Linked DNA regions of Homo sapiens: region 1 is linked to region 2. Evidence: fine-mapped expression QTL. A gene starts in region 2. The other region holds a variant in brackets. All regions are shown on one strand. Distances are from middle to middle.

Region 1 (9,482 bases), 85 kb before region 2:
TTCAGAAGGAATGGTACCAGTTCCTCCTTGTACCTCTGGTAGAATTCGGCTGTGAATCCAACTGGTCCTGGACTCTTTTTGGTTGGTAAGCTATTAAGCTGGAGGCATCACGCTACCTGACTTCAAACTATACTACAAGGCTACAGTAACCAAAACAGCATGGTACTGGTACCAAAACAGAGATATAGATCAATGGAACAGAACAGAGCCCTCAGAAATAACGCCGCATATCTACAACTATCTGATCTTTGACAAACCTGAGAAAAACAAGCAATGGGGAAAGGATTCCCTATTTAATAAATGGTGCTGGGAAAACTGGCTAGACATATGTAGAAAGCTGAAACTGGATCCCTTCCTTACACCTTATACAAAAATGAATTCAAGATGGATTAAAGACTTAAATGTTAGACCTAAAACCATAAAAACCCTAGAAGAAAACCTAGGCATTACCATTCAGGACATAGGCATGGGCAAGGACTTCATGTCTAAAACACCAAAAGCAATGGCAACAAAAGACAAAATTGATAAATGGGATCTAATTAAAGAGCTTCTGCACAGCAAAAGAAACTACCATCAGAGTGAACAGGCAACCTACAAAGTGGGAGAAAATTTTCGCAACTTACTCATCTGACAAAGGGCTAATATCTAGAATCTACAATGAACTCAAACACATTTACAAGAAAAAAACAAACAACCCCATCAAAAAGTGGGCGAAGGATATGAACAGACATTTCTCAAAAGAAGACATTTATGCAGCCAACAGACACATGAAAAAATGCTCACCATCACTGGCCATCAGAGAAATGCAAATCAAAACCACAATGAGATACCATCTCACACTAGTTAGAATGGCAATCATTAAAAAGTCAGGAAACAACAGGTGCTGGAGAGGATGTGGAGAAATAGGAACACTTTTACACTGTTGGTGGGACTGTAAACTAGTTCAACCATTGTGGAAGTCAGTGTGGCGATTCCTCGGGGATCTAGAACTAGAAATACCATTTGACCCAGCCATCCCATTACTGGGTATATACCCAAAGGACTATAAATCATGATGCTATAAAGACACATGCACACGTATGTTTATTGTGGCACTATTCACAATAGCAAAGACTTGAAATCAACCCAAATGTCCAACAATGATAGACTGGATTAAGAAAATGTGGCACATATACACCATGGAATACTATGCAGCCATAAAAAATGATGAGTTCATGTCCTTTGTAGGGACATGGATGAAATTGGAAATCATTCTCAGTAAACTATTGCAAGGACAAATAACCAAACACCGCATGTTCTCACTCATAGGTGGGAATTGAACAATGAGAACACATGGACACAGGAAGGGGAACATCACACTCTGGGGACTGTTGTGGGGTGGGGGGAGGGGGGGAGGAATAGCATTAGGAGATACACCTAATGCTAAATGACGAGTTAATGGGTGCATCACACCAGCATGGCACATGTATACATATGTAACTAACCTGCACATTGTGCACATGTACCCTAAAACTTAAAGTATAATAATAATAAAAAAAAAATGCAAGCTCTGATTTACACTCAGTCCAAATCTTGACTCTGCCATTTAATAGGTATGAAACTTAACTTTGGGGAGGGATTATTTATGTATTTATTTTTAACTTGTTTAAATTTATGGGGTACAAGTGTAAATTTGTTACATTCATAGATCGTGTAATTGTAACGTCAAGGCTTCAGGGTATCCATCACCTGAATAACATACATTTTCCCCATTAAGTAATTCCTCATCATGCACCCCTGCCACACCCACCCATTCACCCCTCGGAGTCTCCTTTGCCTATCATTTCACTCTCTACATCCATGTTTACACATTTTTTAGCTTCCACGTATGAGTGAGAACATGCGATGTTAGGCTTTTTGTGTCTGGCTTGTGAAACTTAACTTTTCTGAACTGTTATCATATATATAAAATGATGGTGATTACAGCTCACACTTCCTAAGACTGTTATAAGAATTAAGATATTATATACAAGAAAAGCACTTACAATAAGATCTGGCACAGAGTAAACAATAAGTAAATGTTAGATAATATTATTTATAAAGATTTCCCAAAGTAATATTTATAAAGTATAAGCAGACTTGTAAGAGCATCTGACATACCTGAGTTTGAATTCTGACTCTACCATTTGCTAGATATAGGGATTTAAACATGATACTTAGCCTGTAAACCCAAAATCCTGATTTAGAATTCAGATAATACTACTTCCTTTCTGTTTTAAGAAGTAAATGAAATGGAGTGTATAAAACAACACTGTGCCTGAGGAACTGCAATCATTTAATAAATGACTAGTTTTGTTTTGCTGATGTAGTTCTTGTTTTTATTATTAGCTTTGCCAATAAGGAATTTTAATCCAGATAAGAAACAAAGAAATAAATAACTACAGTATAATGCAAGTAAATGTCATGGAAATAATAAAGTTAACAAATGCTTTGACAGTTTATGAGTAGGAATGATCAGTGTGAGCTGCAGTAATAAAGAATACTTTCTGAAACAGATAACATTTCTATAAAAGAAAATAGAGAATAGGTAGATATCCCAGGCAAAAAGAAGTATGACCTCAGGAAAGGTAAACCAAAGCACAAAAGCAGGAAGAACAAGGCTTATTTGAGCAGTAGAGAAAATGGGCACAATTAGTAGATTTATTATAAAGATATTCATCAAATTATTAATCCAGACCTGCACTGACCAATATGGTAATCATTAGCTGTATGTGACTAAAGAGTTCTCGAAATATGGCTAGCATAACTAAGGGACTGAATTTTTAATTTAACATAATTTTAACTAATTTAGATTTAGAAACTGAAACAGTTCATAGGAGCCAGCAACTCCATTCCTCAGTATATATTCAAAATAATTAAAAACAAAAACTCACACCAATACTTGCACAAAAATGTTCATTGCAGCACTATTCACAGTAGCCAAAAGGTGGAAACAACCCAAACATCCATCAATATATGAGTGGATAAGCAAAATGTGGTCTATACATGCTATGGGATATAATTCAGCCATAAAAAGAAATGATCCTGATACATGCCACAACACTGATGAACCTCAAAAAACATTATACTAAGTGAAATAAGCCAGACCCAAAAGGACAAAAATTGCACTTACATTAAGTATCTAGAATAGTCAAAGTCATAGAGAGAAGAAGTAGCGTAGAGGTTACCAGGGGCTAGTGGAAGTGAGGAATGGAGAGTTATTGCTTAATGGGTACAGAGTTTCTGTCTGGGTGATGAAGAGTGTTTGGAAATAATGGTATGGTTGTACAACACTGTGAATTTAGTTAATGACACTGAATTGCAACTGAAAAATGTTTAAAATGACAATATTTTTGGTGATATATATTTTATTACATTAAGAAATTAAGCAGAGTAAAATATTTTTCTGATAAACATATCTTCATTGTATTTAAAGTTTATCAATTCCGGGTCAAACTGGGGGAGTGGAGAAGACAAATTAAAAAATATTTTATTGGGAAAATTTATAAGAATTGAAACATGGGAATACCCACTATACACAGACATGCCTTTAAAAGGACTATCCATGAGATCCCCTTAAATTAGCCTCTTCCAAAAAGATATTAAAATAGTGCTTGAAATTTTAATTCAAAAGTATAGTGAATTTCTTTCCCTCTATTACCTAGTACCTCACTGATATAAATCCGCCTATGCAGTTGACATAGTTTTGCCAAATTATTGTATATTCTCTTGACCTTCCTTCTTAAAATATTTATTATAATTGTGTAATAATAGCTAACATTTACATGGCAATTGTTGTATTAACTCTTTTAATCCTCATGACATCTCTATGCAGTAAATATGATACAAAATAAAAAGACTTAAATAATATGACATCATTTATTGTCTTATTATAATATTAGAAGCTAATAGTACGATTAAAGCAAGTTTCATGTTTCAAGTATAGTGACTCTGATGGCCATCACTGCTCCAAAATCACACAAGTGAAACATAGAAGCATTTGTATGATTTAACATAGTAAGTAGAATCTAGTTTTAATAGCTATTTTATAACCTGAAATGTATTTATTCTTATAATAACAAACACAGTGTTAATATGTATTAAAGTTGTAGGATCTTAATATCAAAACAAAATGAAATAAAACCTGCAAGGAATCAGGAAAAGTTCAACACTGTCCCATGAGGATTTATAGTGAGGAAAGTGGTGCAGTCTAGGTTTAACTAAGGTAGGAAAGCCAACGAAAGAGCCCAGGCTGTGTTACACAGAGACAGCAATTGAATATACTCCACAGCTGAAATCATAAAGTTTCTCAAGCAACCCATTAATAATTAAATTTGCTTTCTCTGATAAATCTTGTCAGCCTGCTCCAAGGAAAACGGTCCTTCTTTCTTTGTAGTTTTCAGCCAATCAACTTGCCCATGGACAAAAAACAAAATTCATTATTTTTATGACTATACATAGCTTTCCACTATGTATATTTACCACATTTTCTTTATCCATTCCTTCATTTTCGACACTTAGATTCATTCCAATATCTTGGCTGTTGTGAATAGTGCTGCAATAAACATCAGAATGTAGATATCTTCTGCCAATTGCAACAATATGAATGAACCTGGAGGACACTGTGTTAAGTGAAATAAG[C/T]CAGGCACAGGAGCACAATTATCACATAATCTCACACGTATGTGGAATCTAAACAAGTTGATTCATGTAACTGGAGAGTAGATGAGTGATTTCCACGGGCTGAGGTGGATGGGGGGAAGAGAGTTGGAAAGATGTTGGTCAAAGGATATGCAATTTCAGTTAGATGAGAGGAATAACTTCAAGAGATCTATCATACAACATGGTTATAGTTAATAACAATATACTGTATTCTTGAAAAATGCTAAGATAGTGGATGTTAAGTGTTCTCACCACAAAATGATAACTATGTGAGGTAATGCATACGTTAATCAGCTAGATTAGGTGAATCCACAATGTATGTATACATCAAAACATACTGTGATAAACACATGTAATTTTATCTGTCAATTTAAAACAAAACAAAACAAAATTATTGTTCTACCAGTCTATAGTTCATGTTTTAATAAAGCCTTCTTTACTTTTGTTCCATGATAATCAACCTATGCTTGATACAGGGAAAATACTACCTCTCTCAAATCTAAGTAAACTCAGCTCAGTTTCTAGCCAAACTAAATACCTCTAAATTATTCTTTGACTGTTATTCCGATAAGCCTCTGAGCCCTTAGAAGCATGCAGCCTAAGAAAGTTTTTCATCCAGACCCACCGTGTTCTGTCTTGCCTTTGCTCACTTCCCCAGTGCATGCCATTATACAGGGATCAAACTCATGGGCTTTTACATGCTAAACCTGGCTCTTAGCCATGTGTGTTTTTGTTCACAGTTGCAGTTGAATTAATGTTGGGAAATTGTTTTCTATGGTCTCTGACAAGTTACAGGTAACTGGGAATCTGCTTGGCCCTTTATCTTTGTTTAGTTGTTTGTCTGACTGTCATAGAAATTCTGATATCTCCTGATATCTCTTAACCAGATGATGAGATAAGGGGGTAGTCAGATTTGGCTGGCCTCAGCCTTGGGGTTGAGGAATTGCCCTTGTCACATCTGCTTGATTTGTTAACTTTTCCAACCATTGAAAGAAACTTCATGTTGTTTGTCTTATGATCTATAATTGCTTTGGTCAGTTATTTTTAGGTCGTTGTACTGAAAGGGGGAAAAGGCCTTTTACTTTCCTTAGAAAATAAAGATATGTAAGTTACTTGTTACTGTGTGGCAAACCACCCCAAAACACAGTGCCTTGAAACAGCAACAGTTTCGCCAAATTTTTGTTGAGTTTCTTCTGCTGATCTTGCCAAGCCTAACTCATGTGTTTGTAGTCATCCCTGTATTCAGCTGGGGCTGGATGATATCATACAACTTCTCTTACATGTCTACAGTCTCAGCTTGGATGGTTGGACCAGCTAAGCCAGCTGGGTCTCTCTCTATGAGGTCTTTCATCCTGGCTTCTTCACATGGTGGCAGAAGTGCTCCAAGAGAGCAAGCCCCAGTGCACACATGCTTATCAAGCCTTTGCTTGCTGTATATCTGCTGATATCTTGTTGGCTGGAGCAAGTCAATGGTCAAGCCCAGAGTAAATGTGACAGGGACTACACAAGCATATGGAGACAGAGAAGTGTGATTCATTGGGAAACCATCACAGAAGGAAGCTTGTCTTTATAATAGTCTGTTTATAATGGTAGTTCTTTCTGTACCTGTGAGTGATTCTACCTCTCATTCTCTCTCTCTCTCTGGGGGAAATTTTGAATATTAATTGATCATAACAATCTATCATTTGTGCATGCTATAGAAATATCCAGTTCAAACAGACCTTCATAGGAAGAAGATGCATGCAAATATTAAAACCAGTTTTTCATGGATCATGAAGTAGAGTTGTGCCTTCTGAAAGAGCTTTGCTTGGTTTGTATTACAATTGTATGCAGGCTCGAATGTCCTTAAAATGGGAATAATTGCTTCTGGCTTGTCTGGGGCTTCATGGCCTTCTGAGGAAACTAAAGGATTCAGAGTACATGAATTTTTTATTCTTTCCTCTTGGAAAATATTAATAAATAAAAAAGTCCCACGGAAATAGTCACAAATGAGCCAAGTGAAGATGTGAGGAAGAACTTCATGTGAACTATGACAAAATATTATAAAATCTTACAGTAGAACCCATAAGTTGATCATGTCTGAACAAGTCTTCCCCAAAAAGGACATAATAAAATACAAAGAAAGGCAACTTTAGACTCTCCCAGAGTTCTTTCCTTGCCCAGAGATATGACAAGATACTTCTGCTGAGTATGAAACATTTTCTAAACAAATGGCATATTTGTGTCTATTACTTTTTTATTTTTAAATATTTTATTATATTTGAATAAAATTTGTCTCCATCATAATCTTACATGTTTAAAGCATTTAAGAACACTTTTGTTAAGAAAGAGTCCATAGGCTTCAGACTGCCAAAGATGTTGGTGGTGCAAAACATGAGGAATCTCTTAACATTAGTATCGTCTCCGGGCATAAACTCTTCATGTGTATATGAGCTTGATTTTTGTACATTGCTTTGTGGAGAATAAGCACTACTTCTACTGCCAATCTTTCTAAAGAGTCTTTGACTTCCACTGCCAGCAGAAGTTGGGTAATAAATGTAAACATTGTGATCTTCTGCACTGACTGGCTTTTCTACAAATGGCTTTTGAAAAACTTCCTCATTTACTTCTACATGATCTTCCCCTTCAATCAGATTACATTCTTTGGGATTATTTGGGTCACGGTTCAAAATTGCATAACAAGGAAGTAAAATAACTTCAGCTTGAAGAATACTATATACCTCTCTCCAATCTTGTATGAGATACTGCATATTCAAGTCATTGATTACAAATGGATTCCTGAGTTTTGCATAGGCAACCACTTTGTCCAGTGGAAATCCTTTAGAGTGCAAAGAAAAAAGACAATCACATAAAGGCCAGTTTTCCACTGGTTCCCTCAAAATAACCTCCTCTTCAAATACCACTACTGTGATATATTTAAATAAGGAGACCCATTCAAGAATTTCCTTCATTGGTTTGGATTTGGATTTCTTTGCCATGGAACATATTCCAACCACAATCTGCCTTTCTGGTGGAGAATCATCTTCCTCCTCATCATCTTCATCTGCATGGTGGAAGAAATGTTGATAATTTCCAGGATTTATTTCTGTGTCTTCTGGTCCAATGAAGAATCTGGGGGCTTCACTAATTTTTTATTTTATTTGATGTAGATATAATTGAAGTGATATATATTAAAACTGCCTGTAAATAAATAGCATCAGAAGAAAGCATTCTCCTTATGTTAGCTGACACACAGGTCTGTGACAGCTTGTTTCTGCTTATACAATCACTTGATATTATGATGACTTTTGGCAAATGCTCTTTTGTTCTTAGATACCATTGCTTCATTGTTGATATCAAAGTTGTTGTTGCAATTCAAAATACAAAGACAGTGAGGCTACTGCTTTCTTGAGTTGATACAGCAATCTTTTTACCTGCCACGAATATGGTCATCACGTGAGCAGCTGTGAGATGGTCAAGCCCATTCAGGTCTAGGTTTCCCCCTTTCATTCTGGAGGCAGGGCTGAAGTGTTCGTCAAGATTTGTGTCTATGTCTGAAAAAAAATGTAATTTAATTATAAAGTCTCATGGTTAAACGAATTCCTATTCTGATTGACTTATAGAGACGAATAAGAAATTCAATAATCTTCAGGAAGAAGAGAGAAAAATTTATATCCTAATGTTTTAAGTGTGCTGACCATTTATAAAAGCTTGAGAGGCTTGCTGAAGCCATAACTCAATAAAACAAGAAGGAGAAGTATGAGGAGGAGGAGGAGGAGCTTACTATAAATTAAATTAATGGCCTTGGTTGCAAAGTCTCAAGAGGCAGAAAAATATAAGTAGTTATCAGTTTGGAAAACAGTGGGGGTAGGGGAGAATTCTAAGAGAACAGTACTTTTAAACAAAAATTGGAAAGTTTTAATATTTGGTAAATACAGAAAAAATTGTAAACAAATAAGTTTAGGTTATATTTCTATCAAGGCGAATCACTGGACAAATTAAATTGGTTTGGTAATTTGGCTTTAAAAATAGCTACATGTCTTCCCCTGATTTCATCACAGTGTGAAAAATGTTGGCATATTATTTTCTCATGAGAAACTTAATTAATTCTGATTTGCTAGATTTCCTATACTGATTTTTACTTCCATTAACTGTTAAAAATTATAAAATTATCATTCAACCATCTTTGGAAAGATTTGCTCTTGTGAGCTTCAGATAATACCATAAATCATATAGATCTAGTAACTTTACTTATACTACCTATATCAAATTTTAAATATCATATTTGTCTGATGAACTGTTTTAAGATCAAAAAGGATTGTGTTTCTCTTTAATGTCAACCTCAAACAATTTCCAAAATCTCTGGCTGACTTCAAGACCCCAGACTATTGTTAAACTAATTAATTTCATTAAAGTAGTCTTTGGTTATCTGGATATTTTCTAAGTAGAACTAAATTCATAAATATAGAATATAAAAACAAGCAAATATCGTTTAATTATATGTATATATCTTATTCATTTACATTCTAGATTGTCCATTAGTTAACATGATAGAAAAAAGATGTGTAAATACCTTTAGGTCATTGGTTTGGCTGTGTCCCCACTGAAATCTCATCTTGAATTATAGCTCCCATAATCACCATGTGTCATAGGAGGGGCCCAGTGAGAGGTAATTGAATCATGGGGGCAGGTTTTTCCCATGCTGTTCTCAGGATAGTAAATAAGTCTCACAAGATCCCATTGTTTTATAAAAAGGCAGTTCCCCTGCATGTGCTCCCTGGCCTGCGGCCAAGTAAGACATGGTTTTGCTTTTCCTTAGCCTTCCA
Region 2 (9,408 bases):
AATTTGTACAGGTATTATAAATGCAGTCTAATGGTGAATCCTTGGCTTTGCTTCTGGCGTTGAGGCTTTAAAACACTGGAATAAAAAATTCTGATAGTTCTAGCAAAGCCAACTTAAAAGGAGCCTATATGGCTGATCACTATTCCTGCTACAATTTATTCAAATAACCAGGCCAATATAATGAGACAAATTTATTTTGCAAATAAATTGGTCCTAGTATAATTTATCCTTGGTAGAAATAAGAAAACTGGAGAAAAAAAAATCTTAGATTCTAGCCCTGACCACTGCTTTTGAGTTTTTATAATTTGCCTATAATTTGGACTAAATCCTGAATTATTTCCTGGCTACAAGAAGTCTCTAAAAAGGAACTTGGTTTTAATTTTCTTCATGATGCTTTTAGTTGGCTGCTTACTCGAATAGGCTCCTTTCATTTTTGTTCTGGCATACAAATTCTCTTCTGATTGTAATCCTTGTGTGGATTGTATTTCTACTATTCAAATTATTGATGCTATGTATCTTTTGTTGTTTTACTTCCGAGAAAACTAAAGTCATAGTATTCTGAAGACTAGAGAAATTCAACGAAGCCTGTCAATCTCCCTTGTTTGAAATCCCAAGGAGTATGTTGGCAATGAGAAACCAATATGGCCCAGTGGGATTTCAAAGGCTCTGGGACCATTGCAAAAAAGAAGGGTGCGTGAGACTCTACACATGAATTAGTGGAATGTGGAGGACAAAGCAACGCCACCTAGGATGTTAATCCACCATGTGGACTTCCCCTGTTCTGGGAAGGCTTCTAAGATTTCCCCTCTCTCTATTGTTTCTTGTGTAAAAGCATGTACTTACTGTAAATCCTGCCCTTAGATCAAGACAACTTTGATGTTATTGTATTTCAATTGTCCTACATGTCCCTTCTGAGTCACCCTTTCCCTGTGGTATACAACCCCTGGGTCTGAGGGGTAATGGCACTGGGATCCACCATCTTGTCTCACTGCCGCCTGAGATGCAGACAGGGCTTCTGTTTTTAAGTCTCCATTAAATGTTTCTTTTTGAGAAACGTTAATGTGTCAGCCTCTTTCTTTAGCCTCTCAGCTTCCTTAGACTTTGGAGCGTAGGTCTGTATAGTCCTGCTTACCTTGAAATAGATGGGTTAGGGAGAAGGAACACCAGGGAGACGTTCGAATTATTTCACCTAAAAATGTAGAGAAGTTTTGTGAAACAGTGCTTAATTAATAAAAAGGTATTTCTTGAGAGATGGTTCTATTCCTACTACTGGCAAAAATGTAGATGAAAGATTGTTTGGCATGATGCCAAATATTACCCTATAAATTACTTCCTAATTGCAAAGGGAAAACTATAACTTTACCATAGAAAGAACTGTCTGTCAATAATCAAATGATCAAATAGCATTGTCAACAAAGAGTCAAACTTTGTAAAATATTTGAAGAGATTTATTCCGAGCCAAATATGAGTGATCATGGCCCACGACACAGTCCTTGGGAGATCCTGAGAACATGTGCTCAGGGTGGTTGGGGTGCAGGTTGGTTTTATATATTTTAGGGAAATATGAGACTTCAATCAAATACATTTAAGAAATACATTGGTTCAGTTCAGAAAGACAGGACAACTTGAAGCAGGGGTGGAGCTGGGGGGGTAGGCGGGGGGAGGTTCCAGGTTATAGGCAGATTTAAACATTTTCTGGCTGACACTTGGTTAAGTTTATCTAAAGACCTGGAACCAACAGAAAGGAAATGTCTGGGTTAAGATTAAAGGATTGTGGAGACCAAAGTTCTTATTGTGCAAAGGAAGCCTTCAGGTGAGAACAGAAAAGCATTCTGTTATCTCTCTCCTTCAGAGAGAAGAGATTGTAAATGTTTCTTATCAGACTTAAGGTCTGTGTTGATGTTAACATCACTGAGGTATAAAGAGGCATGTCCAACCCCCACTTCCCATCATGGCCTGAAGTAGTCTTTCAGGTTAAATTTAAATTTTAGAGTGCCCTAGCCTACGAGAAAGTCCATTCAGATAGTTGGGGGGAATTTAGAATTTTGTTTTTGGTTTACAGCAAGCTTGTCCAACCTGCTGCCCACAGACCACATGCAACCCACAGGCCACATGCAGCTCAGGACAGCTTTGCATGCAGCCCAACATAAATTTGTAAGCTTTCTTAAAACGTTATGAAATTTTCTTGCGTTTTTGTTTTGGTTTGTAGCTTATCAGTTAACATTAGTGTTAGTGTATTTTATGTATAGCCCAAGACAATTCTTTTTCTTCCAGTGTGGCCCAGGGAAGCCAAAAGATTGGACACTGCTGGCTTACACCATCACCAATAGTGGGACAAATCTGATATTAAATGCCTCCTAATGTAATACAATATTAACTACACAGTATGACCTTTGAAGTATCCTTATCCAATGTTTAATCTGAACTCCTCAAGCCTCTGGTAACTTGCAACTGATAGGAAATACAAAATCTAGAGGTACAAAATAAATAAAATCGGACAATCCAGCATTAGGGCATTCTTCATGACAACTGCTTGGTATCTTAAATTTGTTTAAAAAGACAGTTATTATTGGGAAAAATGAATTAGATTAAAAGCTTTAGATTAAAAGAAGCCAAAGAAAGTTAAAGCCCAACTTCAATGGGCAATCATTCATAGGATCCTGGTTCAAAAACAAACTATTTACAAAAGGTATTCTGGAGACAACTGGACAACTGGAGAAATGTAAATATTCTCTGGACCTTAAATAATAGTAGCGAATAATTGTTAATTTTCATTGATGTGATAAAGGTTTTATAGGAAATGGTTATATAGGAAAATGTCCTTGTAGGAGACATATAGCTAAAGTATTCTGAACTGAAGTGTCTTATCTACAACCTACAGATCTGAGAAAAATAAAACCAACAACCAAAACACACACACATAGGTACACATATAAATATATAAATAAATATGGAAAAATATTTGAATCTAGGTGATAATGATATTGAGAAGAAATTACTCAGGCCGATAGTACGAGTATGGGAGTCCTCAGTGTAAAAAGTGAAGTAGAGGTTCCTCTTCAAATGGACTTTCCTTTCCGTCTAATTAGGAATAAACAGTAACTTCTCTTAAAAGCAAAATTTATTCAAAGAACTGTGCTAACATATTGGAGGCCGAAACAATGAGGTTCGTGATCAACTCAGTATATCACTGGAGGCTATATGAGTAAGCAGCAAACTGTTTCTCATAAATGCAGAACGTTGGCGAACTGACAAACTGCGTATGCCACCCAGGAGGACTGCTGAGGGTAGTTACGATCTAGGCACAAATGTTTCTTATGATTAGGCATAATTGAAGCCTGTCAGTAACAATATGAACCTGTGATCAATTAAGCAGCTGACCAATCGTTACCACCTCCTCCCTGCTCCTGTTACCCAAAAAATAGGAAGGGCTGTGGAAGCTCTGTGGCTGCCTTTGCTCACGAGAAGCAGGGAGCTCTCTTCTTCTTCCCCTGGCCCTTTCCTTAAAACAGTTCCTTTTGTCTTAAGTTATCATTTCTACGTTCGTCCCTTCATTTGATCTCACAATGATGGTCTCAAGCAGTAACAGTAGTAACTGCTGTAACGATGGTCTCAAGTAGTAACCGTGGCAGTTGGCCACACTAACATTCTTTGATATCTGTTGGCCGTAATAAAGAAATCAATGTACTTTGTGCTCTTAGCTGCCACATTTTAGCCTAGATATTTGCCCTGGCATGCTTATACTGGTCCAAGGAAGCATTAGGCCATAGCCTGTTTTCTTCCTTATCTGGAGGTGTTTTTACCTTTCTCAGCATTCCACAAGTTGCTTCCTCCTTCCTTTGTTCTCCTCTGTCTTTGCCTCTTTTGGAAAGTTCTAAGTTGCTAGCCAATCAGGACAAGTACAGAGGTCCCCTTCCAGCCAATGGAAACCGGACACGGTAGTAGGGTGCACGTGTCAGGTTATAAATGACCCTGTCTCCTTTATGCGTGTGTGCTCTCGTGGCAAGACTACTAGCGAGCGGCAACCTTTCTGCAGAAAGTAAACTAGCCTTGCTAAGAGCTCCTTTGTCTCAGTGTTGATTTTTGCAACACTGAGCGCCCGTTCCCAACATCAGTAAGGCTTTTCTTTTTAATGAAAAGCAGCCCCAAATCCTTTTCTAAGAGCAGCCTGTGAAGTCGAGCTGCAGGCACAGACAAACAAGGGGGTAGCTTGCTTGGGTGAATGGTGGCAGGAACTACCGACTAGACATGTTTAAGATGAGGGCTCCATCTTCGCTTCTCTGCCAGCCACGTGTACAGTAAGAAGGGGTTACAATAGGCATATGGGTGATTTTGTGCTTTTCGTTCATCTTTTCTGTGTTTAAAATGTTCAGAATAAGAAATTGGAACAAAGGAGACATGAATAGACAATTCCTAATCATCTTTAAGAGTCCGCTTTGTGTTTTACTTACCACCACCACTTTGAAGGCTTTCTTGCCTATACCAGGACAAACTCAGCTCTTTATCCCTTTTCCGAATTTTCCTGGTACTTTCACTTTGAATATAGCGCTTAATTAACATTCTGCCTTGTACCTAGGACTAACACACTATAAATTCCCAGAAGACAAAGTAGGGGAATACAATAACAGGATATAGAATTTTAACAGCTAAATTAGATGAATTTATGGGTGACCTTTATTGGGCAAAAGAAAATGTTAAGTTAGTATAAGATTTAGTATAAGCTACCATCTCAAAACTCAGGGTCTCACTGGAAGAGAAAGTGACTCCAGGTAGAATTCCTCAGGGAGACATTCACTTCCATCATTCGCTGAACCAGGAGCTTTGGACAGCCTCGGATTGCACCCGCATATCCAAGGACACCACATCAGCGGACAAGTCATAAACAGCCTTGGGAATACGCGGAAAGGTCAAATTTACCTAAACAATTAAATTCTCTTTTAAATTTTAAGGAAACACAAGTATGCTTTCGCTTTAGGTAGGGCATTTGAGAGCAAAATGTACTAATACTTTGAATCCGCCAAGCAGACACGATCTGGGTTTGACCGTTCTCTCCGGGTAAAGGTGAAGGCTGACCACGGGGGCCGCTCTCCCTCCAGGCCCCAGCCACGCCCTCTAACCCAGGTTCCCGTCCTGCACCGCGCCGCAAGTCCCCCCACCGTTCAGCGCAACCGGGCCCTCCCAGCCCCGCCGCCGTCCCCCTCCCCCGCCCTGGCTCTCTTTCCGCGCTGCGGTCAGCCTCGGCGTCCCACAGAGAGGGCCAGAGGTGGAAACGCAGAAAACCAAACCAGGACTATCAGAGATTGCCCGGAGAGGGGATGCGACCCCTCCCCAGGTCGCAGCGACGGCGCACGCAAGGGTCACGGAGCATGCGTTGGCTACCCGGCGCCGGGGACCGCTGCCACCCCGCCTAGCGCAGCGCCCCGTCCTTCCGCAGCCCAACCGCCTCTTCCCGCCCCGCCCCATCCCGCCCACGGGCTCCAGTGGGCGGGACCAGAGGAGTCCCGCGTTCGGGGAGTATGTCAAGGCCGTGACCCGTGTATTATTGTCCGAGTGGCCGGAACGGGAGCCAACATGGCAGCGGGGTTCGGGCGATGCTGCAGGGTGAGAGGGAGCCCAGCGGTGCGGTGGGGCTGGAACATGGGTATTGTGGTGTCGGAGCAGGGGGCCCTGGGCCAAAAATAGGTGCGGCCGGGAGGAGTGGGAAGTCGGGCTGAGGAAGGAGCCAGCCTAGGGGCCCCCAACCTGCTTTCACGCCTCCTACCACCGGACGGAACGTAGCCTAGCGTTTCATTTTCCGTATCCTCCCGTCAGGCGACCCCGTTATAGCCGGCATCCTCTCTTTAGAATATCGTTTTTCTTTCTCTGGTAAACCCTCCAAATATTTACCGCGGGAATCCCACCTTTTTCCAAAGTGACCCCGTCTCTGTGTCAGAACCACGGGAAAAAGAAAAATGGAGCAGCTACTCCTTGAAATACTTAATGTTTAATAAGCTTTTCGTTGTAACGTTTCCACGTTGCTTACGGGAAAAAAAAAAGTAAAAAAAAAACCTGCAGAATTTTATGTGAACTTGTGTGTATATTCTAGTATTGGATCTTAATAGATTCTAAATAAGTTTGTCACTAGATGAATTTTGGTATCTTAAATATTCTTGATATGTTCACACCACTGCCATTTAGATGTCACTTAAAATTAAGTTAAAGTTATGTCTTGGACCAAAAAAGCTGCGGTTTTAGAATAATCCTAAAGAATTGCTGCCCATGTTTTGCTGGTGTTATGCAAGTTAATGTGCAGTGAAGGCAGAAATTGGGAGATTTCAGCTATTTTTAACTCCTACACCAGAAAAGCAGATTTCTCAACCTCCAAGGAAGGATCTAAAAAAAACCTGATATAGAAAACTTACACCCTTTTTCTCTTCTTTAACCCATAAAACTGACACTCTTATATTCCCAAGAAATGCACAAAAGTGTTCAATTCTAGTGGTGCTGTTTCGATATTTGGAATTTCATTGTTCTAGACAGAGAGCCCGAAGTAATAAAACCAATAGTTATATAGCATTAGGCTTTCAAAACATTATCGTACTTTAATCGTCCGAAAATACGCAGTGAGATTAGTCCCATTTTTTGGTTTTGAACGGAAGCTATAAGCAGTTTGTAAACCTGTCTACGGCCACAAATATGGTTGTGGAACCTAGATTCACATTCAGCAATTATAACTCCAGATCCCGTGCTGTTTCTGTTTTCTATTTGCAAACCACCTCTCTAATTAACTGGCTAACTTTGTTATGTAATTAACAGGTTGATGGGCATTGTATTCTGGTAATAGCAACCTTTGCACTTTGTTCTATGTAACATATTTTCCTGAACAGTCACATGTGAAGTGACTTTTTCCCTATTTAAATTCCCTCGGTTGGCCAGGTGCGGCGGCTCACGGTTGTGATCCTAGCACCTTGGGAGGCCTCGGCGGGTTGATCACTTAAGGCCAGGAGTTCGAGACCAGCCTGGCCAAAGCAGGGAAACCCTGTCTTTACTAAAAATAGGAAAAATTAGCTGGGCATGGTAGCATATGCCTGTAATCCCAGGAGGCTGAGTCTGCAGTGAGCGGAGATCTCTCCACCGCACTCTAGCCTGGGTGACAGAGGGAGACTCTGTCAAAAAAAAAAAAAAGTCCCTCAGTAGACCATTTAACCTGGTTTGAGTTCTGACTTTTGTGCATGGTATTTAAAAACGCATTTATAATAGAGTCAGGTTTTTTGTTCTGATTTTTGTGGAATGTTTTCCTTTGTTATGGAACCTAGTGACCAATTAGGATACTAACAGAAAGATCAGTATAGCAAGGTGGTTAATAGCATGCGCTCTTGATAGTAAATGTTAGAATCCTGGTTGCACTAATAGTAGAGTGACTTTGCCTAATTTAGTTGACTTTCTGAGCCTTCGTTTCTTCACATGCGAAAGTGGAATAAAAGTAATGGCTTAATCCTAGACTTGACCTGGGATTCAGTGAATTAACCTGTGTAACGCGACTGTAAATCAGAGTAGATTTGGTCTGTGACTGCTGGACAATAAGCACCAGAGAAACTGTTTCACTTTTTTTTTTTTTTTTTTTTTTGAGACGGAGTCTTGCTCTGTCACCCAGGCTGGAATGCAATGGTGCAGTCTAGGCTCACTGCAACCTCCGCCTTCCGGGTTCAAGCGATTCTCCTGCCTCAGCGTCCCGAGTAGCTGGGACTACAGGTGCGTGCCACCACACCTGGCTAATTTTTGTATTTTTAGTAGAAATGGGGTTTCACCATGTTGGTCAGGCTGGTCTCAAACCCCTGACCTCGTGATCCGCCCACCTCAGCCTCCCAAAGTGCTGGGATTACACGCATGAGCCACCCCACCTGGCACTGTTTCACTTTCAAAATAAAATTAATGAAGATGCAAAGAAAATGCGAGTTTTCATACTCTGTATGTTTTTATTACTGTAGTATGAGGTATGTTATTTGGAAAGCACTGTTTCAATTACAAATATTTGACACTCTTAATTATATTGTCACCTTACATGTAGGAATTCGTCTTTTATAAGTTGAAATTGTCATCTACAAAGACAGTTTCTTTTTACGGATTTTGAAAAACATAAGAATTTAAATAAAGAAACTTTAGTATATTCTTCAGCTGCTCTTTTCTCTTAGTATCTAAGCTTGTTAAAATTGCTGGATAGTTCAATTAAAATCTTTTACAGTGAAAATTGTGTAATTTTGACTGTCCTGAAACCTTTACTCAAGAACACCATTGTGGTTCCCAGTTTGGCAGCTTTAATAAATGCAAATTTTTACTTTTGTATCCATTAAACTGTCATGAATATAAAAATGGGTTGCAAAACAATAATATATGTATATTTGATTGTTTGTTTCTTTATATGTTCCTTTGAAGAAATATGACTATATTTCAGATCCTAAGACAAGTAGTGTATTAGTAGTTTAGAAGAGGGATGGCAAACGTGTTTGTAAAGGAACGGATAGTACATGTTTTTGGCTTTGTGAACCAGATGGTCTCTGTGGTAACTACTTAGATCTGCTGTGAAAGCGGCAATAGACAGCATGATGTGGCTGCACTGGTTTGGTGACTCCTTGCTCAGAACATTGTAAGAATCCCTGTAGACAGCAGAAAATACAGAACATGGTTTTATGCTAATTTGTTTTGTTAGAGTGGGGTATCCTAAAAAATGAGATCCTCTGAGGGGAAGGTTTCCAGAGGCATGCATGGGAGGCTCACAGTGACAGGGTATCAAAGTTGATGGACTAGGCAACTCTTGAACACAGTATGTTCACTTCCAGCCTATCGTTCTCCCCACCCCAACTCTCCAACCATTAATGTCCTAGGAGCTTGTAAGATACCCAGAATAGTGGTCCTACATCTACTACTACCCTTGACTGTTGTTTGTCCTAAACCCTCCACTTCAGTAGTATAAATACCACTGACTTTATTTTCATTACTTTTTAAAAACATCTCCTCTGTAATAGGAATTTATATAACTGATAATTGGCTTATTTAAATTATGATTGAAGGCATTTAAATAGTGATGACTTTAAAAACTATGAGTATGGTCAAACCAGTTGCTGTACTCACTTATGATTATCAGTAGTCTCTTATCTGATTAATGTTTAACTTATCAAATTTATTTTAATAAAAGTGTTCTTTACAGGTCCTGAGAAGTATTTCTCGTTTTCATTGGAGATCACAGCATACAAAAGCCAATCGACAACGTGAACCAGGATTAGGATTTAGTTTTGGTATATGTTCGGTTCTATCTTTTGACTTTAAACTTATACATATGAAGCTTTATATGTTTTGTTTGGAATATGTTTGTAAATAAACTTAATAATGTCTTTCAATGAGTAGAACCAGTCCACTGTCCACAGATAATTT

Direction of the effects. Alleles are on the strand shown, and positions count from the first base shown. SD is a standard deviation of normalised expression in the study named.
In carriers of allele C in region 1, the expression in ovary of the gene that starts at base 5,493 in region 2 tends to be higher than with T alone (large effect, 0.89 SD a copy in GTEx).

Evidence for each region. PIP is the estimated chance that this variant, and not a neighbour inherited with it, causes the effect.
Region 1: its variant is the best candidate, but not a certain one, in a credible set for the expression of ACADM in ovary (GTEx, PIP 0.85).

What each region holds. Positions count from the first base shown.
Region 1 is chr1:75,634,283-75,643,764 of GRCh38, forward strand. It overlaps a transcript of SLC44A5 not described here and the pseudogene LOC100421536. Among named protein-coding and RNA genes, the nearest start is that of SLC44A5, 28 kb to the left of the region's middle. RefSeq lists an enhancer at 5,970-6,129. The variant C/T (reference allele first, on the strand shown) is at 4,660.
Region 2 is chr1:75,719,217-75,728,624 of GRCh38, forward strand. It overlaps ACADM (acyl-CoA dehydrogenase medium chain), which reads left to right and starts at 5,493. Exons shown (of 12, transcript NM_000016.6): 1 at 5,493-5,601; 2 at 9,185-9,272. The coding sequence starts at 5,572. It also overlaps a transcript of SLC44A5 not described here. RefSeq lists enhancers at 521-1,146, 4,879-4,968, 5,619-5,708 and silencers at 5,339-5,388, 5,439-5,488.